Homo sapiens: one gene and its partner. The protein of the gene in region 2 purifies or fractionates together with the protein of the main gene of each other region. This does not show direct contact. Each region holds a gene or a part of one and is shown on either strand. Other genes may lie near its edges. The genes, in order: GALC and TRMT11.

Region 1 (12,093 bases), on a different chromosome or scaffold from region 2:
TGTTTTTGAAAATAATTCTTCTATAATTCTCTCATTTTAATTTCCTATATTGCTAACAATTCATCTTTAAAATTTTTAATTGAAGTACAGCATACATACATACATATATAAAAGTACAAAAATCATCGGATAATAGCTTAATGAATTATCACAAAGTGAACGTACCTATGTAACAGCCACCCAGAAAATTATCAGTGCCCAAGAAGCTTGGTTACTGATATCTCCTCTTGGAAAGATTTTTCCTTGGAAATCTTTCCAATAATTAAGCTCTCTTTTTGCCTTAAAGGTAACTACTAATCTGACCTCTGACACCATGGACTAATTTTGCCGGTTTAAAAACTTTATTTAAATGGCATCCTATAGTAGCTGTTATTTCAGCCAATATTATATAAATTTGTGAGATTAATGCATGTTGTTATATATAGAGGTAGTTCATATTTATTGTTTAGCATCCAATTGTTGGATGCTAAATGTAGCATACCACAACTTATCTGTGTATTATTTTTTAATGGTCATTTAGACTGTTTCCAATTTTGGGCTATTGCAATTTTGTTCAGGAGATATTTCTTGGCTCACATCTTCATAGGAAGACTATTCCTCCCTGCCTCATTCATGTTGTGCTTGGCCTGTGCTATATCTGCAGATTTTTGTTTTACAGTTACAGTACTTTCTAGGGTCTGTTTCTGCTGGGCCCCATTCTTCTTAGTGACTGAAAGTTGTTCTCCCTCAAACAAAGCGTTCCTGCCTTATTCAACTTGGATTCTACTTCAAACAGCTTATTTTCATGTTGAAGCTCTACCATTCCTGATTATTTGCTACCTTCTCCTGAAATTGTTATTGCTTAAACCTGTATTGTTCAATACAGTAGCCACTAGACACATATGTTTAGGAAGCACTTGAAATGTGGCTAGTTTGAGTTTAGGTGTGTAATAAGTATAAAATATACACTGGGTTTTGAAAATTGAATATAAAAATATTATTTACAATTGTTTTACACTGATTACATGTTAAGTGATAATATTTTGGATATATTGGGTTAAATATATCATTAAAATTATGTTCTCCATGTTTTTCTGCTTTGTAAATTCAATTAAATTTTTTCCATTTATGTGTTTTATTGTGGTAAAGACCTTTGCTGGTTTTTAATGTGGCTGCTAGACAACTTAAAATTGTCTATGTGTGGTTCATATCATATTTCTACCAGACAGATCTGGTTTGAACTGTTACAGTATTGGGTTTGATCTCCTAATGAATTCACTGTTTTGAGCATTGACCCCTAACTTCAAGCCTGTGAAGATGTTCCCATCTTCCTGAGTTGGTCTTCTATGCTCCCCCTTAGGGTAGGGTCTACTCCTTTTGTGTGAGTACCGGCCAGTCCCCTTTCACTTCTAGTTTCCATATACCATCTGCTGATCCTGGGCCATTTCTGATGCTGCGAGGCTCCTGGGGAGAGTCCCTGTCACCTGGTTTGATGGCAGTGTTATCTGTGAGTTTTTCCTTTCCCTTATCTGGTTGGTCAGTTTGGTTTCAGGAGGAGTACTGAGGAGCTTCAGAAACTGGGCTGCTGTCATGTTCTGCCTTGGCCAGAAATTCTAATTTTTTAAAGTACAAATATGTTCCTCTGTTAGGATAAACTATAAAGTTGGTTTACTTTCATTGATCTTAATTTTGTCTGTTATTGAAGTTTGAAAAATAATGCTGTGAAGTGATAGAGAATGTTTGCCTACTTATATACATTAAAAATTTATATTCTTTTTTTTTTTTTTTTTTTTTGAGACAGAGTCTCACTCTGTCCTCTGTCGCCCAGGCTGGAGTGCAGTGGCGCAATCTCGGCTCACTGCAAGCTTTGCCTCCCAGGTTCATGCCATTCTCCTGCCTCAGCCTCCCAAGTAGCTGGGACTACAGGCACACACCTCCACGCCTGGCTAATTTTTTTTTTTTTTTGTATTTTTAGTAGAGACAGGGTTTCACCATGTTAGCCAGGATGGTCTCAATCTCCTGACCTCGTGATCCGCCCGCCTTGGCCTCCCAATAAAAATTTATATTCTTAAAGAGCCTTTACATTTTGTTGCACTAGTAATAAATCTATACATTAAGAAAGACCCAGATTTTAGTATTAGTTCTGCCTTTCTTTGCTCATATCATGTAATAAATCATTTGGGTTTTGAATGTGGTAACAGTTTCATCATTTTCTGAATGAAGGATATATCACCTATTCCTATAACTTCAATAAAGTTACTTTTTCATTTTATAAATATAATATGCTCATTATAGAAAATTTGGAAAATGTAGAAAAGTATAAAAATAGAATTTCCTCATAATCCTAACATCTACTGATTATTGGTAACATGCTAGCATATTACTTTACAGTGTTTTCTTTAATATAGAAATATATTTTAACCAAATACACCAAACATGCATTTGGCAACTAGACAACTGGATGACAACTAGATGAGTATTAAAAATTAACATTTGGCTGAGGTACCAAAGCTGAATTTCATGGAAATAGAATGGAGTTGTGGGATAGAAGAATAAATCTAAAGTGTAATTTTTTGAATTTATATTATTTAAAAGACTAGTAGCCAGATTTTTCAGGTTGGGCGTTATAGTTCCAGAACAATGATTGCTTAACCCTGTTAGATGCTAGATTTCTGTTGGTATCTTTGTAGTGTAGATTTGCAATATTGAATAGATGCCTGCTTTCACCTGAGTTTAGTGACTCAGTAAAATCTTAGTGGAACCTCATTTTTCTCTAATACTTCTTTTTATGTTCTCCAGTATATATTGTATATTATTTTCTTACTCATGAAATCCTGGGATGCCAAATTGATATTGTGCCCTAATTCATCTTCACTAGGTATAAAGAATTACCAAATAGGATTTTTTCCTAAAAGATTTGTGACCTAAAAGGGAATTAAATAACTAAAAAGTAAAACAAGTATTCACAATCATTCTTTTGATGTTATAAATACTACTACACCAAACTACAAAGATTAGAATTATGATATAACTTAATCTCCATTATTTTGCTTGCATTGTTTTTTGTAAATAATTTTTAAACTAAAAAGTAGATGCTCTTATTCCTACAGTTATTTAGCTAGTGTGCTCTCTTATTGGATTGTCAATCTATTTTCTATTTTACATTTAAAATTTATTGTTTTTATTCCTATAATCAGTGTCTTCCACAATCATCATTATGGGAGTATTTTACTCTTGCAGTAATGAATATGCATTTATACTTCCACCAACTGACTCCCCTCCCATCGAATGATAGAGTGAAGGAGGCATTCATTTTCTGGGGCAGTTTCTCACCTGCTGCACTATTGATATTTTCAATGGATAATTTTTTTGTTGTAGGGGTTGGTCCTGTGCATTGTAGGATGTTTAGCAGCATTTTTGGCCTCTCTTCTCTAGATGCTAGTAGCAAATATCCCTGACCCCAGGTGGGACGGTTGAAAAAAATGTCTACAGATAGTGCCAAATATTCCCTCCAGGGACAAAAATCATCTGGGTTGAGAACCGCCACTGCTCTGATACAGTAATTTAGTTTTCCCAAGGTAGCTTATTCTTTTTATTCAAGAAATAACCATGTGTGGGTTTTGTTTTTTGTTTTTGGCCTGGGAGTAAATGCCAAGCTATCTTTCTGTGTTCTAAGGACAGGAGTAGTGGGGAGAGTACTACTTTATATAAAGGTTTCACTAGTCTTATTTTTGGCCTCCTCCTCACTCGTTTACTATTGCCCCAAGCTCCTTAGCTTCCCCTGGGAAGTCTGAATCTTATCTTTACTTCATTCTCCTCTTGGAGTGTTCTAGGCTGTGGCCCTCTCTGCTACCTCCATCCTTCAACATGCTTCCATCCATCTTGTGAGCTCCAGAAATAGATTGAAATTTCTTATCTATTGATGATTTTCCTTCCTATCCTGTATGCTGTTGTAGGTTTATCCCCTTTTGTTTTCTTTGCTGTCATTTTAATGGCATGCTGAGACAAAAGGGCATAAAGCAGATGCTTAGATTCATTATCTACCTGGAAGCTACCCAACTGTTTTAAAATAGAAAACCTTGGAGAAGACTCGTATTTTTATATACTCAACAAATCTATACGTATATAAGTGCCACGTCGTGACCTTTTTTCATTGACTTCCACCCTTTTTTTTTCTAGGGCTCATTATCCTGGAACCCATTCAGCAAAAGATGCAAAGTTGACTGGGAAGAAGCTTTGGTCTTCTGAAGACTTTAGCACTTTAAATAGTGACATGGGTGCAGGCTGCTGGGGTCGCATTTTAAATCAGAATTATATCAATGGCTATATGACTTCGTAAGTTATTAAAAACCTTTTAGAGTTCTTATCAAAAAAAATTTAAAAACATAAGAGTTAGAAAAAAATGGAATTCCTTATTCTTCCAGCCTAGATTCAATGATTGTAAACATTTTGCCTTGTTAGCGTCATCTATTTGTATACCTATACCTAATCTATATCTAATTTTCTATATTTGAATATAGTCTATATTAAATAAAGTCAGGTTTATTGAGGTATAATTTATATGTAGCAAAATACATGCAGCTCTCTGATTTTTGACAAGCTACTTGTATTTTTAATAATTATAAAGTAAATAGTATATGTAAGGACACTTTATCTCTAAATATTTTAGCATGTGTCTCCAAAACATAAGGATATTCTTTTACATGATCACAGTATCATGTTTTCATACATGAGAGTGTTTTTAATTCTCAGTCTATATTCAGATTTTCCTAATTGTTTCCCAAAAATGTCATTTGTAGCTTTTTTAAAGAAAAGGAATAGTCAAGCACACACATATTGCATTTAAAAGTTACACCCCTCAAGTCTCCTTTAATCTAGAGTGGTTTCCTTATTCCTCATTTTTGATGACAGTGATCTGTTGAAAAGACCAGGCTGGTTGTGTTGTGGACTGTCTGCTTCCCAGCCTGTCTGATTGATTCCTCATGGCATCACTTGATATGTGTAATTGTTTGTTTAAAAAACAGATGTTCTTAAGGGAGAACACAACTATTTTTGTTCCTAAGGGAAGCATTTCTTAAATGCTTTGAAAAACACTTGAATTGTGAATAGATTCCAATTAGCTTTTTTTAAACAATGATAAATAGAACAAAAACAAACCAATATTTATGTATTTGTTGTGATGTTAATGTGGGTTGCTGTATATTGTATTTGTTCTTTTTCTTCTCTTTGTGAAAGAAAAGACACTTAGGAGAGTTTGGTTATAACTTAATTTGGTCTTAAAGGTAAGGCATCTTCATGGCAGAGAATTTAGAAAACTGAAGATAGGTACAAAGAAAGAAGCAAAATCACCTACAGTCTTATGATCCAGAGCTAACCATCCTAAACATTTTTAGTGAATGTCCTCCTGTTTTATATTGGCATGTATACATTTTAAATACAAAATTGAGACCATACTATAGAATCTGTTTAAAAAACTGCTTTTCACTTGAGACGACATTAGGAACTTTTTCTCACATTTACCTATATTTCTACTTCATCATTTTTAATGCATTTTAAAATATTTTGTTACATAAAGCACCATTTCCCAGACTTGCCTTAAGAAGCACCCGAGACACTCGTTGTTATACCTTCTCCTTGGCAGCTGCCCAGACATTGTGAATCAGAATCTACAGGGAAGGCTCCTGGTATTCTGTCCATCTAGTCAGTGCCCTCAAGTGATTCTGATGCCACACAAGTTGGGAAACACTGATGTGGAAAATATATTATTGTTTATTGAATATTCTCCTCTTTTAGAATTGGAAGTTGTCTCTGTTTTAATTAATAGCTTTGTACAAACTGAAATGTTCAATTGTATACAAATATCTTTGTATATGCCCATGACTATTTTCTTAGGCTGTATTCTTAGAAATGGAATGGTCAGAAATACATAGATTTTGAAGGGTTTTGTATGTATTTTACAAAATGCCCTCCAGAAAGCTTGTCTTGAGTTATACATCTATCACTAGCCAGAAAGGATACCACACATCTTGCAAACCATGGGCAAAATTATAAGAACTTAAAATATTCACTAGTAGTAAGGTGTTTTGAAAATTAGGACTATTATTTCTACTTTGTACTGATAGAATTAGAAGGCTTTGATTTGCTAAGAATGTCAGTCTCTTTTTTTTATACTGGATGAGGACTTGATAGGAAAAATAAAATTCTGTGGGTAAGCTTTGTTTTTTTTAATCTGTGAGGGACCCAACAATACCAAGTTCAATAACTTCCCTTTTGTCCTTGGATTTCCTGAGAAGCAGAGAGTCAAAGTTTTAGGGTTTAGCACCTGCTCTGGACTGTTAGGGCCTGATCATCTGAGAAAGAATGGGCCACAAAGCAGATCAGCAATTAGATCCAATTACTACTTATAGATGAAGTGGAATCATATTTAATAGCAATACTACGGCCCAGACCTTGTTCCATACTCTTCCTATGCATTAGTACATTTAATCCTTACAAACTCACGTGAGAGAGATATAATTATTATCCTCATTTTACAGAGAGGTTAAGTGGTGAAACCATGGTTTAAACCCAGGCAGTCTGACTCCAATAATTCTCAATTGTAAAACTTTGGAACAGTTCAGAGTCAAGTTCATAAAAATTATGTCATAAAACTGGGGCATTAAGAAGGCTGACTGTTGAAAGGAAAGTAGGTATGCACAAAGCCTTTATTTGTATTTGACTCAAATTTGTGATGTGTTGGGTATTGGTAAGGCATGATTCGTCTTCTGGCTATACCACAGTTCAGTAAAAATTTGCACATAATACATTTGTATTTTTTATCATGTGATTCACCATTAAAAATATTACAATGTACCCCACACTGGATTTTTCAAAATGTGAATAAATTTAGACAACTTATATTTTCTTATTTTGGGTGATCCTTTTATTGTCATTTATGTAGATGTGTATTACTATGATAAAGTCTTTTTACTCCAGGTTTTTAGACATTTACATTTTTATCACAAGTTGTCTTGGTGTTTCTTTTTTATCAAATCTTTTAGCACAATCGCATGGAATTTAGTGGCTAGTTACTATGAACAGTTGCCTTATGGGAGATGCGGGTTGATGACGGCCCAGGAGCCATGGAGTGGGCACTACGTGGTAGAATCTCCTGTCTGGGTATCAGGTATGGTTCAGTTCCATCTCTCACTCCCTAAATTCTTCTCTAAGAGACAAAGCAGAAAAAAACTTAGAGAAGATTATATAAACTGTGTGTCTATGCGTGTTTTAAGTATAGATTTAAGTTTTAAGCAAGATTTGCCAGTGTTTTATAAGAATATTTTGGGTAACTAGACTACTCTCTGATTATTCTAAGACCAGGCTTTTAGAAAAGTGTAGGAGAGGAGGGGGAGAGAGAGGAAAAGGAGGAGCTGTGTAGTGATAGAGACACAAATAAATAATCATCTAAGGATATAATTACAAATGATGATAATTGCTAATAAGATTATGTATTTATAAACAGAGTAGAAGTCTTAAGATTAGCTTTGAAGACATTTTGTTCTCTTATATTAATAGAGTTTCAATTACAATCGTATGCTAGCAAAATCAAAGGGAGATGATTAAAAATACTGTATTATTGAATCATCAAATGAATAAGTAAATATGAAAGTTATGTGAAATATGGCTTTATATTGTCCCCTAAATCTGTGAAATGTGGGTTGTGAAAAGGTAAATTTCAAAATAGGTAACAATGTAAAGCTCAAAAGATTTTAAAAGTGAGCACGTACTGAAGATTTTATGTTACTCATATGATATGAAGGATCCTGGCAGATAGATGGTAGATGTTAGAAACAGTTGAAATGAAAAGTCAACATAGCACAAATTTTCGTAGTGTAAGGGAATTGGAGATGAATTGTCAATGGAGGCAAATTGGGTTTCCCACAACAGGGAAGAAATTAATTAAATTTCTACCAGACAAGACATAATTTACATAGCTCAGAGACAATGAACAGGGCTATAGATAATACATCCGTTTTTATTGAAACACAAAAGTTTTACTACAGTATCATTCATTAGTCACAAGGGAAATTGAGATTATGCAGGGATGGATGGCATAGTGTCACTTTTTCATGAGGAGATAATAACCATACTAATAGTGATTATATTTTAAACAAAGTAACAAAATCTATTGCTGAATAATGTTGAAACTTTTCTGCAGTTTTTTTGTAAAAGATTATAAACATTTATTACCATTTTGTTTTAAAATTCTAACAATCTTTCTAAAAAGCTAATTTCTTTAAAGGTAAAATGCTTTCAGAAGAAAATTATGAATTTGGAGTGAATTTGTTTTTATTTTAAACTTAAATTTGGTGGTTTTCCCTTTTAGTTGTGCTCTCCTAAGACAGATTTGTAATCATATTAATCATGTAATCATGATATTATTCTAAACTCCTTAAATTGTCCTCCAAAAAATATAAGAAAATTAAGGTTAGACTTGTATATTGGACTTGTATATTCTAATATTGAGAATTATATGAGAAAACTAAGGTTAGACTTGTATATTGGACTTGTATATTCTAATATTGAGAATTATATGAGAAAATTAAGGTTAGACTTGTATATCAGCGCCTTGAATGTTGAAATTGTTGGCCCCACATTATCTAGATGAACTAATGTACTCTTAATTTTGTGATTTTTCCAAGGGTTGGGACATGGTATATTGCTTAGTGCATTTTCAGGACGAGCTTAGGAGGTGACCAATAAATGTACATGTGGTGGAAATAAATATGTTTGAAACCATAAAGTTAGTTTCTGAAATTCATTATTAACTTTTTAAACCTTTTTTTGGTAGCTATTTTAGGATGGATTAAATAGTGATGAACCAAGTTTGGGGGGGGAATAACTATTTTATTCTTAAAAAAAAGACTGATCATATTCTTGAACTGACAGGTTCATTTATTTTTACCCATCATTCCAGGAATCTTCTTGCAATTGTACCATTTATCTAGATTAATTATTTAAAAATTTAAACATGAGGTTGACGGATATATTCCTGCAAAATAGAAAATAGCTTGTTTGGATGAATCAGACTCAAATTGATATACAGCTTTTTTTTTTTCCCAAAAGAAATACTATTATTACCATTTTTGTCTTATTTGGAACTTTCTGTTTTTCTATAGCTCATACCACTCAGTTTACTCAACCTGGCTGGTATTACCTGAAGACAGTTGGCCATTTAGAGAAAGGAGGAAGCTACGTAGCTCTGACTGATGGCTTAGGGAACCTCACCATCATCATTGAAACCATGGTAAACTTTTGTTGTTGCTATTGGATTAACTCACTTCTTTACTATTGGAAAAATAAAATATAAAACTGAATACTTTTGTTTTACATGTAAATACATAAGCATACAGACAGATGCCAAGATCTTATGGCTTTCATTTAAAAAATTTTAGCCATGAGTCGTAAAACATAGCACACAACTCACTGATTTGTACAAAATAGTTGGCTCTCATCTTTTCTCCACTTTGTTCCTGGCAGTTGGGATAAAATTAAGGTTACCTGTGTACCAATATTTGTGGAGACGACCTTCACGACCTTCCCTTGCCCTGATATGTATATGGAGGCTGTGGCTTTTTCCTTTTTCATCCTCAGGTTGTTTTGGGGAGACCTTAAGTCTGTTGAGAGCAACGAGCTTAAAATTCAAGTGATTGAGGGGCTTGAGTAGGAAGGGAATAGGTCTGACAGGTGGACAGAGGCATGGGAGGAGGTAGGGGCTTGAAAGCAGACATATCAAGGATTCAAGGGAACTGAATGAAAGAATGAAGGTGAAAAAACATGGAAGCAGAAGCAGAAGCCAGTGGAGAGAAGAAGAAGTCTGAGAGGTGCCAGTGTGGGGAGATCTCAAGCTTCCCAAAGAGGTCAATGAAGTTCCAACAAGAAGGAGGTAGACAGAATAGGAAGTGCATATAGTCAGCAGGGCTTTGTGAAGAAGGATTTCTAGCAACTAAGTTCCCATGGGAGAAGCAAGATCCAAAACAGAGAACAGAGTAGCCTTAAAAAAATGGTGTGTGTGTGTGTGTGTGTGTGTGTGTGTGTGTGTGTGTGTGTGTATCATATCAGGTTCTGAATGTCAGCCTACAGTTTGGCCAACTCCTGACCATAGACTCTTAAAAAACAAATTCTTTCAAATATCCTACTATCAGGTTTGAGCCAGGACAAACAGTAAATATTCCTGGCAGTATTGACCTTTTCAAACCAAAGGTGTCTATTAAGTGACTCACAACACAAACCAATAAGCCTTTTATGTCTTATCGTGGATGAAGAGGATCCTCAAAAGAGGGTGTAAAAAGATGCAGCCCTCCCAGAATCTACACTTCATCGTAGTCAAAAGGTTGAGAAGTGATCCTCCAAAGACCTAGAACCACTCCCAAGGATAGTCAAAAGAAAGACCCAGATAACCTCCCTACTCCCCACTCCCTGTCAGAGCTGGCGATAGTTGGTAAACTGGCTGCAAATAGGGTGCGAATCACATTTTTGTCTGGTTATATTCTTGGGGCCCCCAACTTGAAGTTGGCTGCCTGCATACACAAAACTGACAGCTCACACATCCCTAACAGGTGGGAAGTCAAGCCAGGTTCTCAGTACACAAAATGAGACAAATAGGAAAGCAATAGCTGACCCTGGGAAGGAAGGGATCTACAGGTAATGAGCACCCAAAACTAAATTTATACAGGAATCACAAACCAAACGAATGTTTTTCTTCTGCGAATCTGCATTTGGAGAGGAAGGGATGAGGAGGTTTTTGTTTGTTTGTTTGTTTGTTTAATTGTCTTCTCTCGATCGGGTACTTCAGGCAGAGATCCAGAAGAGCAGGCCTTGGTGAGAATTCTTAACCTTTCTGCCACCTTTTTGTCAGTGTCTCAGGATCTCATCTGCAGGCTCTTAGAGTGAGTAGGCATCTCATCTTCTTCACCAGAAACTGTCTTCAGAGATAAGGAAAATAGGGAGAGCACCTGTTGAGTGAGGGTCTTATGACCTGCTTCAGAGGAGAAAGGAGAAGGTCAGAGAGTAAACTTCCTGCTTCTACATTTTTCTCAAATTATTTCACTTTAAAATATTTGCGGGGAGTGTGTCTTGAACCCCATCATGGCTGTTATGACTAATGGTGTGGATTAGCATATGTGTACAAGTTTTTCTGTGAACGTGTTTTCAGTTCTCTTGGGTATGTATGTAGGAGTGGAATTGCTGGGTCACATGGTAACTCTGTCTTTAGGATTTTGAGGAACTACCAAATTGTTTTCCAAAGTTACTGCACCATTTTACATTGCCACCAGCAGTTTTATGAAACTTACAATTCTCCACATCCTCCCTAACAGTTCTTACTGTCCATGCCTTTGATTATAGCCATCCTAGTGAATGTGAAGTGCTATGTTATTGTAGTTCAATATGCATTTTCCTAGGGACTAATGATGTGGGGATCTTTTCATGTGCTTATTGGCTAGTAGTATATCTTCTTTGGAGAAATGTCTATTTAAACTCTGCCCATTTTTAAATTGGGATATTTGTGTTTTTATTATTGAGTCATAAGTGTTCTTTGTTCTATATAAAAATTCCTTATCAGAAATATAATTTGCAGATATTTTCTCCCTTTGTATGGGTTGTCTTTCATTTTCTTAATGGTACCCTTTGAATTAAAAAAAGTTTTAAATTGTGATGAAGCCCACTTTGTTTTCTCTTTTGTTTCTTGTGCTTTTGGTGTCATATCTAAGAAGCTATTGCCTAATTCAAGGTTCTGAAGATTTATATTTATGTATTCCTTTAAGAGTTTTAGAGTTTTAAATCTTAAATTTAGGTTTTTGGTCCATTTTCTTTCTTAACTGGGGTTATATGTGTGTCCAACTTGATTCTCTTGCATTTTAATATCCAGTTGTCCCTGCACTATTTTTTGAAAAGACTATTCCTTTTTCATTGAATTGTCTTGGCATCCTTGTTGAAAATCAATTGGCAATAAATTTGAGGGTTTATTTCTAGAACCTCAATTTTTTTCTGTTGACTTATATATCTGTCCTGACGTGAGCACCACACTGTCTTAGGTACTGTAGCTGTCTGATAAATTTTGAAGTGAGGAAATGT
Region 2 (12,093 bases):
ACAGTTGTTCTTACTTTGGTCACAGCACTAATAAAAACAGTTTATTAATTATTTTGTGCATGTTTGATAATAGTTACTCAGAAATTTGTATTTACAGTTTAAAACAGGAGATAATTACTTGATTGGTTACAGGAGTAACTATATTAAAATAGTTAATTCTTACAAAAATTAAAATATGTCCTAACCTTTTAATTTCTGTAAGAACTAATGTCTCACATAGTAATTATGCCCTATTTGTTTGAAACTCTGACTTCAGTGGGAATTGAGCCTAGTCATCAGAATTTATTCTGTTTATTGCCAGCTCTTTGTATAAACAGCCTTATATGCTCATTTTTAAGAAAGGAGCAAAATGTTTTTGTGTAGAGCTCTAAAAATAAGATGAAAATGTCTAAATATACATTATTTTGACCAAAAAAAAGATAAAATAGTGCTGTTTAAAATAATGATGCCAGGGTATACATTAATTTCTCTACTTTGTTACCAGTTTAGTGACTATAGCTTAGGGGTTTGTTTTTTCAGTCCTGAGGCTTACTAAATATGTTACGACCAATGTCATTCCAGGATACTCTGCCTGCAGCTAGTTTCTAAGACTGGATGAAGTTAAATAGGAACAAACAGGAGTTTGGGACTTACTGGTTAACAGGTCAAAATTGTGTGATTTTTCAGGTGGCCTGCTGATAGCATGTGCTCATTTTGGTGCATATGTGTATGGGACAGACATAGACTACAACACAGTTCATGGCTTGGGTGAGTAGAGATTATAGACAGTATTATAGTCATTGCTGTGGTGCCAAATGTACCTTTAAACATACAGTTGACCCTGGAAGAACACAAGTTTGAATTGCACAGGTCCACTTATACTCAGATTTATTTCCATCTCTGCCCTCTTGAAACATCAAGGCCAATCCCTCCACTTCCTCTTCCTCCTCAGCCTGCTCAACATGAAGGTGATGAGGATGAAGACCTTTATGATGATCCACTTCCACTTCATGAATAGTAAATCTATTTTTACTGAATAAAGTAAGTATAACAGTAGGCTGTTAGTAGTTAAGTTCTGGGGGAGTCAAAAGTTATATGCATATTTTTGACTGTGTGAGGAGTGGGCACCCCAACCCCATGTTGCTCAAGGGTCAACTGTAGTTTTATATGGCATTATTTTAATCTTCAAATACAAAATTGTGATATAATTTTACTTGTTTTTATAAGACTTCATTGGGTATCTACTTTTATGATCCATTGTGTACAGAGTGATTTCCTGGGGGAACATGAAGGTGAATGAGAAAAAGTCCTGCTCTCAGAGGGCTTTAAGGAAGTGCAGGAAAGTGATAACCCAGTGACCAGTTCAGACCTATAATTTATTAATTATAACTAATTAATAAATATACATGATAATGAAACATATTTGGTTAAGATTATCACCACTCATTTAAAGATTATCACCAAAATTATTCACTAATCATACATTGACTATATACTGGATTAATAACTAGTCTTTGAGGTACTATTTATGTTTCTAATTTTATAACTGACCAAAACCTCTTTAAAGTAACTTTAAAGATTCTGCCTTGAACTGAGAGTACTTGAAACAGTCATCTGCTTTACTTTTCAGGTAATTATGGAAAATATTTTAAACTCTAGAAGCTTCAATAATGATGTGTGATTGGATGGAATTGAATCAAACTGAAAAAGTATTTCCTTATAGCTTAATGGTATTGAAAATGTCATTTTATTGATGATTTTGAGATTATTTGTGTTTATGTTGGTATTCATTATAATAACTGGGATCAGCCCTTATAATACTCTTTTCCTTTTCCTCACCCAGTATAAGTTATTGTATTGGTGAGCATTTATTATACTTTATTTTCTTTTGTGGAAGTAATTTGATATCTTGTACTGGTGACCTGTCTTTTTCCCTACCTTGACTGTAAAGAATTTAGTAACATTTATTAGGAAAATGAGTTATAATTTATTAGGTGTATATAAATGGGCTAGCAAGAAAAAGATATTCTTTATCTGAAATCTGTTTTAAAAAGTACTAAGAATTATTCCAATTTGCTTTTAGTAGAAGCAGTATATTTCTTTTAAGGAAATTGTCTTATATAATTTACTTGAATTTTTATTTATTAAAGTTATGTTTGGAAACTTATGTTGTAACCTTCAGTCTACTGGGGTAGAATTCTGATTGAGGTAGTTCCCTTAGAGCTTATCCAAGATACTGTTAGGTATACCCTCTGTTTCCTGTGGTTCTGAACTCTTACTTTATCCTAAAATATTCTCAAGTTTCTCCTGTTTTAAAAGTACAAAACTTTTTTTTTTGGCAAATCTGTAGAGGTTCTCTAGCTACCACTTTGTTTTCCTTTTCCATTTGCCAAAATGCTTCTTGAAAAACTAGTATAACTTCTTGTCTCCTCTTCTTCATCTTTCACTCTCTTCTGGCCATTATTTTCCAGCTTCTGTGCCTATCATTCTGTTGAAAACGCTAACAAAGGCCACAGATTTATAGCATTTGACAGTGTTGACCTTCATACAGCTGCTCTTGGTTTCCTTGACAGTGGTCTTGGCAGGTGGTACTTTTACTTTTTTGTTTCTTCTCAGTCTACTTGATGCCCTGCAATTTTCTTTGATTTATGTTTATATATTGTTTTTTTCCAGGCGTCTACCTATCTTTGAGCACTTCTCCGTCACACTGCATGTTTTTCAGAGTCATGTCGTTCTTCTTTTGATTTTATAAGAATAATTATAGAGCAAACATGTAACTGCCTCCTAAGTGAACAAAAAGAATGTTATTCAGCCTTATGGAGTCAGTATAAGATTATATGCTGATAACTCCAAAGTCTGTATATTCTGGCCTTCAACTACCTGCTGAATGTCCCCACTGCGTATCTTTTTCTGAAAGTTCTGCAGGTACCTCAAGGTACATCAAGATTGATATATCTTAAATGAATCTAATCTTTTTTCTTAAGCTTGTTTTTCTTCCTGGTTTCTCTGATATTAATCACTGGTGTCATCATCCTAAACTATCATGTCTCCTAAACAAGGAACTTACGAGCTTCTTTAGCCTTCCTTCCACTCCCACTTTAACTTTCATTAGCAATGTCTCCATTTTGCCTCCCTTCCTCATGGTCACAACTGCGGCATTTCCCAAGTTCGCTCTCTTCATTTCTGTTTCATTTATCTGATTCATACTATCTCTACACAGGACTGTTTACTGCTGGAAGAAAGGAACCATATTCTCTTCAACTCTATCTTACTACAAAAATCTTCGTACTTGAAAATATCGAATGAGTGTTTTAAGGCAGTTTTACTTGGAAGTTGACAGAACAAGATAAGTTAGACATCAGTACATTTTACTGTTATGTTGAAATTAAAATAACTATTTACTTGTATACATAAAATTAAGATTTTAAATGAAAGCAAATTTTGAATAAATGTAGGTTTCAGTGAGTTAAAACATTACTTTTCCTAAATGACAGAAAATAAGAATACTCTGTTTAATACTTTCTCTCTTCCTTTTTCTTTCCCTTCAGGAAAGGCTACTAGGAAAAACCAGAAGTGGAGAGGACCAGATGAAAACATTAGGGCCAATCTTCGTCAATATGGTTTAGAGAAGTATTACCTTGATGTCCTGGTTTCAGATGCATCTAAACCTTCCTGGAGGAAGGGCACATATTTTGATGCAATCATTACTGATCGTAAGTTTATTTTTATACAAAAGTAGGAGTAGGATTCGTTTTGTAAAATCATTTACATTTAAAGTACAAAATTTACCAACACATGCACAAAATGCCAACTTGTCAGTATTTCTCCCATCTACCCCCAGCTTCTTCATCTTGTAAGGAGAAAGTTATGAAGGTACTTAACTACCTTGTTAAGGGCTTACTGTTTTGTTTTTTTAAACAAATATATTGGCTTGCCATCCCCTGTTATATCCTTTTATATTAACTTGTCACCCGTTTTTCCCTTCAGCTTATTTTTTTGAGGCATATATTTAGTATTTGTTTTTGTATTGACTATAATTGGTTATTATACCAACTGGAGCTCACATGTCATTTGCAATTATGGTGTCAAATTTTGAACAGAGTTTCAGATATCACACATTTCTCTATGTGTAAGCATTTGTGTTTTTGTAGTGCCTGTTTTCACTGGCATCTCCTTTCTAGCATTACAAGAAATTTGGGGTTCTGTGGAACCACTGGGCCTGTGAACCTACTGAGCTTCAGGAATGTGCATGAAAATTTATTTTCCCATGCCTCATGAGGTCGTGAGTTTTTTAGGCAGCCTATCTAAGAATAGATCTGCCTTTTCTATAGTATTTGACAGTAAATCTGTAAAAAGTGGCAAAGTTCAGCCCTTCTATCTCAGCTCTCTTTAGTTCTTTACTAACTTAGATTTTGTCAAATGTAATGTAACAAAAGAAAAATTATCAAGGCCTTATGGTTTCAGTGTGAATATACTTTATGAAAATTTAGTTTTTTTTAAATTAACAGTTTGCTTTATTATTTGCTCTCCCACTCTGTGTTTACTTATATAAAATACATTTTTTTTTTCCGATCAACTTGAGAGTAAGTGGTATACATTGTGGCCTTTTACTCCTATACTTCAGTGTGTATTTACTAAGAATAAAGATAGTCTCTTAGCAAAAATACAGTTATCAAGTTCAGTAAATTGATAAAATACTTTCATCTACAGTTTGCCATTCAGTTTTGTCAACTGACTCAGTAATAGCTTTTATGGCATATATTCTCCCTCTAGGACAGGATCTACTCTAGAGTCAGGTATTGCATTTCGTAATGATATCTTTTAGGCCTCCTTTAATTTGTAACACTTCCACAGCTTTTCTCAATGACTTTTATGACATTGACATATTTTAAGAAGACAGTTGCTCCTCTCCCAAGTCTTTATGTTGTACATTTTCAGTTGGATTTGTGCATTGGTGATGTTGTGTTCTTCTCAGGGTGTCACATTTGAAGGCAGCATGGCTGTTTGCCCTTGATCCATGATTTGGTGACTTTTGACTATCTGTGTTACCTTTGTTTTCTGTCTAGCTCCATATGGTATCAGAGAATCTACAAGAAGAACAGGTTCACAGAAGGAGATACCAAAGGGGATAGAAAAATGGGAAAAATGGTAAGTGAAATTTAAATATGATGTGTTACTACCTTGAGAAGAGGCATGTGGCTTCCCCGTTAACTTAGCACTCTTAAAATTTTTCACTGATTTTGAAATTTTCTTTTCTTTGTGTAGTCCAGAAAGCCATGTTCCTGTTTCCTTGAGTTATCATCTGAGTGATATGTTTCTTGACCTGTTAAACTTCGCAGCTGAGACCCTCGTTTTAGGTGGAAGACTAGTCTATTGGTTACCGGTGTATACGCCAGAGTATGTAATCTTAATTTTATTTTTAATTTCATTTTTCTTACAATGTTTGCGTATCTAGTATAATTTTCTCTTTATCTCTTCTTGCATTTGGTGCATCTTTATATTTAATTTGTAATAGCCTTTGTTTGCCTTCAAATGTGTATAAAATAGTCTTTTTATTTATTTAGTTTTTTGAGACAAGGTCTTGCTCTGTCACCCAGGCTGGAGTGCAGTAGTGCAATCGTGACTCACTGCAGCGTTGACCTCCCAGGCTCAAGTGATCCTCCCACCTCAACCTCCTGAGTAGCTGGGACTACAGGCATGCGTCACCATGCTCAGCTATTTTTTATTTTTATTTTTTGTAGAGGTGGAGTCTCACTATGTTGCCCAGGTTGGTTTTAAACTTCTAGGCTCAAGCAGTCTACCTGCCTCAGCCTCCTGAAGTGTTGTGATTATAAGAGTGAGCCACTGTACTCAGCCTCCTTCTTTTCATCAACTGAATTGTTTTGACCTTGTTATTTTATATCAGGGGTTGGCAAACCACGGCCTATGGGCCAGATATGGTCCTCAGCCTGTGTTTATAAGGTTCTTGAGCTAGGACTAGTTTTTAGATTTTTGAAGTGTTGTTAAAAAATATCCACACAAAATAATGTGTGACAGAAACATACAGTATGTGACCCACAAAATCTAAAATATTTACTCTCTGGCCCTTTATAGAAAAAGTTTTGCCAGCCCTTATTGTACCCTACACTTAGCTTAGTACCTATGGATCACAGCTGTTTTATAGCTCTTTTGCCAGTCTATAGATGTAATTTTCAACAGCTTAGCTAAAGGATTCACGCTTCTGCTACCTTCTAATGCTAGCTTTAATATATATTGGCTATTATGATTATCTTAAGTACAATAAATCAAAAGCTAAGACCAAAATAAGAGCTGTGCATATATTTAAAGCCCTGATTATGTTCAGCATTATTGCTTTGAGTTTTGTTATTCAGTAACTATTAAATATAAAGCTATATATATTAACAGTAAAAGACAAGACGTTTGAACAAGATGGAATGTTTAAATTTGAAAGGTATTGCCAAGCTCAGTAGGTTATTTCTTCAATCTGACATAGATATATTTTTAATACAATTATTTTAATTCCTATATTTGTATTTGTATTTTATTTTATTTTATTTATTTTTTGAGACAGGGTTTCACTTTGTCACCCAGACTGGAGTACAGTGGCACCATCTCAGCTCACTGAAACCTCCACCTCCTGGGTTCAAGCGATACTCCCACCTCAGCCTTCCGAGTAGCTGGGATTACAGGTGCACGCCACCACGGCCCGCTAAGTTTTGTATTTTTAATAGAGACGAGGTTTCACTGTGTTGGCCAGGCTGGTCTTGAACTCCTGACCTCATGATCCACCCACCTCAGCCTCCCAAAGTGTTGGGATTATAGGCGTGAGCCACCGTGTCCGGCCAATTCCTATATTTATTATACATAATTATACAGTGGTAACTGTCTTTTTCTACAAAGATTGGTAGTCCCTCAGGCTTTGGGACCCTCAGCTATTTCTTGTTGTTTGTTTTACAAATGCTGTATTTAAAATTACCATGGCCTAACTCTAGTTATGCATTTCGTTATCAGCTGATAAGAGAGAATACATTTGTACCCAGATCCCTTAACACTGAGTTTTTTTTTGTTGCTAATGATCATCTCATTTAACCTCTTTTAGAAATGAGGAAACTTAATTCCAAGGAGTGAAATGACCTATCTAAAGTTAAAAGCCAGCTAGCTAATTTGTTTCCTTATTCCCAGTGCTGTATTCACTTAATTCGACATCCTGCCAGATCTCGTATACTTAGTACATGAAATGATAGGTGAGGTTTTATTAGTATTTTCAGATAAGAGTATATTTGTTCATGTCTTTGTAAAAAGGGTTGCTGCCTTAGCCAAACTGAATTCCAGCAACAAGCTACTTGCTTTTTGTTTAATTCAAGTTGTAGGGCTAAAATAAAAAAAAAAAAATACTGTGAAGTAATTTCAAACTTACAGAAGTTTCAAATACAATACAGAAAACTCCCATCTCTACCCTTATCCAGATTTTTCCAATATTAACATATATCTACCTCCCCCCGACTCCTGCACATATCTATTATCACTAATCTTTTTTTTGAGATGGAGTCTCACTCTGTCACCCAGGCTGGAGTGCAGTGGCATGATCTTGGCTCACTGCAAGCTCCGCCTTCCGGGTTCACGCCATTTCTCCTGCCTCAGCCTCCCAAGTAGCTGGGACTACAGGTGTCTGCCACTGCGCCCAGCTAATTTTTTGTATTTTTTTAGTAGAGACAGGGTTTTACCATGTTAGCCAGGATGATCTTGATCTCCTCACCTCTTGATCCACTTGCCTCGGTGCTGGGATTACAGGTGTGAGCCACTGCGCCCAGCCTATCACTAATCTTTTTGAAACCATTTGAGAAGTTGTTGGTATGGTGCCCTCTTACCTCTATATATGTCATTGTATTTTTCAGAAACAAGAACATTCCTATCTAACCATGATCCACCCTGCAAGTCTGGAAGTTAGCATTTATAACACTATTCCATGCAGATCAGAGACACCATTCAAATATTACCAATTGCAATCCATGTAGGAAACTGTGCTGTAATCATCTATCCTATCCTTTTTTGGTCTTCTGTGGTCTGGAATATTTTCTGTCTTTCCATATCTCTTGTGTCCTTGGAAGTTTTGTAGAGGACATGGCTTATATTCTGAGTGTTGACTCTCAACCGGGGCCATCTGATGTTTCTTCTATGACCAGAATGAGGTCATGCTTTCTTGGTAGGAATACCACAAACATGATCTTTGCAGCACATCATATGGCACACAAAGCCACTCCTCCTGGTAATGTTAACTTTGATTGTCTGGTCGGGCTCTTCTCTGTCAGATTTCTCCTCTCTGAATCATCATTTTCTTCTTTGATTTGTATTTTATGGGGAAATAAGATTACACTAATATCTTGTTTTTCATCAAACCACTACTCAGATTAATGACTCCATTGTTGACAGCCACTTCTGAGGTGGTTGCCAAGTGATTCTTTTTTCCATCATTTCTTTTGCATTTGTAAGTTGGTATTCTGTAAGAAAGAGCTTTTCTTTCTGCCCCATTTACTTCATTAATTTATTTATAGTGGTATGGAGTCATGGATTCCTATATTATTCATTGGGTTGTAATTTATTAGTAGCAGTATTTTGTTGCTCAAATTGTCCCAGATTTGACCAGTGGGAGTTTGTTTGAGCTGGCTCTTCTGTCCTTTTGAAATATCCTCAGTAGTTTTTTATGTAAGTCCTTCCTTTTTAGCATATCTGACTGTTCACTGTTTTGCAGTTTATTATTTAATTATAATCAAAATCATATGTGGTTGAGAATTTATTTTGGAGTTCTTTTATTCCTTTATAAAAAGTAATATTGGAGGTTCTTTAAACTGAATGTATTTCTAAAGACTTTAAAAAGTGGCCACTGGATATTTCTTCAATGACTTCTCTATTTTAGTAATTTTAGATGAGGGAAGATTTCCAAATACATATAACCAAAGTGATGTTTTAGAAAGGGAAAAGGGAGACATGTTTTAGGGATTTTTTTTTTTTTGTCTTAGATGTTTTATCAATGGATAGATTTCTTCTAGTTACGTGTCTAACACATGTGGGAAGACAATGGTGGCATTTATTTCCCTGAGTTTTTGGCCCCTGGAGAGGGTTATTTTCAGATCCCCTGATGTTCATTATTAGACCTCAATTGTGTCTTCTCTCTTTAAGCCTAAAGCGATCTTATTAATTATTAATAGTGAACTAAATTTGTCTTGAGTTTATGCTAGAAACATGAACTGTTTTCATATTCAAGGTCTTTACTCTTTTGAAAATTCTTTACTGTTTTGAAAATAACACAGTATCAAGATGAATTTGAGTCTAAAGTCATCTGTAAAAGTTTGAAATAATATTCATTTGAATTAAACAGTTTAGAATAGTTTAACTATGTTATATTGAAAATGTAGCTTTATATTGGACCGGGAATAAAAAGGAATTCAATTTACAATTGTACCTTAGTGTAGCTTAATTTTAAGTCTTTTGTATTTTTGGTGTGGTGAATGTAGGCTATTAGTTCTATTAATGAATTAATTTACTCTCAGCCAAACCCTGTTATATGATTCAAGTTACACATTATAACCAAGTTCAGGTATTATTTTAACCCAGGATTGATTGAAAAGTATAAGACATAAAAGCAAAATACTGCGTAAAAGCTTAGTTGTATATGGAAAATTGTGAGAGCTAATGATTGAAAAGGATTTTCTCACTGTTTGACAATTTAAATTGCAGTAAAGAAACTGCTACTCAGAAACTTCTGCTGTTCTTTTTCCTTCTAGTCTACACTCTCCCCACTCCAGTATATCAGACTTTTTGCCAGCATCAAGATACTCTGTGCATTTTATGTCTTTTCACTTTTGTTTATTCTGTCCCCATTGTTTGAGATGCCCTTTCTTCTTTCCTCAACTGGTAAAAATCTAGTCATTTTTCTAGGCCTGGCTTAATTGTCACCACTTCTGTGACACTTTCTCAGATACTTCTCAGCAGAATTAATCAGTCCATCCTCTGTGCTCTCATAATAGCTTGTTTTTACTGCTTATAGAGACTTAACACATAAAATTACTGTAGACTGTTGGTATTTGTGAGTTTATTATTTACAATTTTGACTACTTACAAATGACCCAGATTATGTGTTGCAATCATGTGTACAGGGCATCAATCCAGTGTGTACACATACAATCCAGGTGTTTGATGTCATAGGAGCCAGTGTGCTACTGAGTGAGTGTAGCTGTTTGCCCAGGCTCCATATATCCATTTAGCTTTATCTAATTTCATTGTACACAGATAACTCTTGAAGTGATTAGAAACAGTGTTTCTTTATAAATGATGACCTTTATAGAAATCCAGCTGCTAGTGTTAGTGATAACATGATGACATACTTATATTAAAATAGCACATTGTACCCCCCAAATATGTACAATTATAATTCATTAATTAAAAATTTTTAAAAAGGTGAGAAAGAAGCTAATAATGTGCCCCAAAGTAGGACTTGGAAATAAATTTTGATTGTAGTAAGGTGAACTTTGCAGTGCCTATAATGAGTGAAGAGAACATGTTTTTCATCTCTTACTTAGGAAAGAGGAAAAAGTGATTTTTAAGCTGTTTTTAGTAAATGTTCAATCAATGCAAAATCTGTTTCTCAAATGGGAGCTGAAATTCTAGTGACATTTGGGAAGTAGTTGAAGCAGGAAGATTCACAGGAAAATGAGTGACAGTCAAAATTGATTCGTGGAAAATCTAGGGGCCTATGTACACAATTATTTTTTTTTAATTGACATAGAATTTGTATACCATGAAATTCACCCCCTTAACGTATACAACTTCATGGTTTTTAGTTTATCCACAAAGTTGTGTGACCATCACCACTAGGTAATTCCAGAACATTTTCCTCACCCCCGAGAAGTACCCCACAGACATTAGTAGTTACCACCCCCCTATCTCTGTCAACCACTTGTCAATCTCTGTGGATTTGCCTATTAAGGATGATTTAGTTTTTAAATAGATAACTTGGATTGTAGGGGGATATTAATAAAAACAGGGAATTAAGATGGGATTTAGTACTGTCATAATGGTCCAGGCAAAATATAGATTTATGCCTTCTACTTAACCACTTGCGAACATTCCATTGGAATGAAATATATTGGTAAATATACAGTGAATAATTTTATTTTACTTTATTTTATTTTTTTTTTGAGACAATTTCGCTCTTGTTGCCCAGGCTGGAGTGCAGTGGCGTGATCTCGGCTCACTACAACCTCCACCTCCCAGGTTTGAGCGATTCTCCTGCCTCAGCCTCCCAAGTAGCTGGGATTACAGGCATGTGCCACCATGCCTGGCTAATTTTGTATTTTTAGCAGAGACGGGGTTTCACCATTTTGGCCAGGCTGGTCTTGAACTCCTGACCTCAGGTGATCCACCTGCCTTGGCCTCCCAAAGCACTAGGATTACAGGCGTGAGCCACCACGCCCAGCTGAAGAATTTTTTAACTGCTATTTTTTAATCTTTTTAGTATGGTGCTTTGGGAGTGTATTGTTAAATTAATTGGCTCATTAATATAATAGATTAATTGTTAAAAATGAATTAAGATCGAGTCAAAAAAGATAATATGAAACATGCAAATATGTTTTTCTGCTGTTAAAACCAAATGCAGCAACTTAGTTTAGCAGTTTAGCGTCATTCATGTCATAGATGTTAATTAAAATTGTGTTGGTACCTTGGATTTGATTGATAAATTTGCTTTTTGGGTTTTATAGTTATATTAGGGATCTAAACATGAAGAGTTTATATCTAATTTATGCTTGTGCATATTTAAGTGACACCTTAATAAAAAAATACTTTAAGTCAGTCCACCAGGAAGTAAAAAATTTTTTTCCTTTAAAAATTAGTATATTACTTAGTTTGACACAAACTGTTTCCAGCATCTATAGATCCTACGGTTTGCAAGCTTAAGGTTAAGGCTATATCTTCTCTCTGTTAGCACTTTTTATTTTAGTCTCAACCATGGTGTAGAATATATTCTTTCTACTGTACTCCAGCCTCGGCAACAGAGCAAGATCCGTTCTCTGAAAAAGTAAAAAAAGAATTTATTCTTTCATGTCATAAATGCATTGC

The links.
Region 1: the proteins of TRMT11 (region 2) and GALC purify together in Homo sapiens (affinity purification with mass spectrometry; 2 studies listed by BioGRID and IntAct, with this or other methods). This does not show direct contact.

The regions. Positions count from the first base shown.
Region 1 is NC_000014.9:87,960,556-87,972,648, reverse strand, and holds part of GALC (galactocerebrosidase isoform a precursor), read left to right. Parts: intron 1-4,158; coding exon 4,159-4,314; intron 4,315-7,019; coding exon 7,020-7,144; intron 7,145-7,150; exon of another isoform or gene 7,151-8,445; intron 8,446-8,505; exon of another isoform or gene 8,506-8,761; intron 8,762-9,137; coding exon 9,138-9,265; intron 9,266-12,093. UniProt on the Homo sapiens protein: Hydrolyzes the galactose ester bonds of glycolipids such as galactosylceramide and galactosylsphingosine.
Region 2 is NC_000006.12:126,007,726-126,019,818, forward strand, and holds part of TRMT11 (tRNA (guanine(10)-N(2))-methyltransferase TRMT11), read left to right. Parts: intron 1-666; coding exon 667-747; intron 748-931; exon of another isoform or gene 932-1,020; intron 1,021-1,609; exon of another isoform or gene 1,610-1,709; intron 1,710-2,652; exon of another isoform or gene 2,653-2,914; intron 2,915-3,199; exon of another isoform or gene 3,200-3,466; coding exon of another isoform or gene 3,467-3,527; coding exon 3,528-3,692; intron 3,693-5,045; coding exon 5,046-5,127; intron 5,128-5,244; coding exon 5,245-5,376; intron 5,377-12,093. UniProt on the Homo sapiens protein: Catalytic subunit of the TRMT11-TRM112 methyltransferase complex, that specifically mediates the S-adenosyl-L-methionine-dependent N(2)-methylation of guanosine nucleotide at position 10 (m2G10) in tRNAs.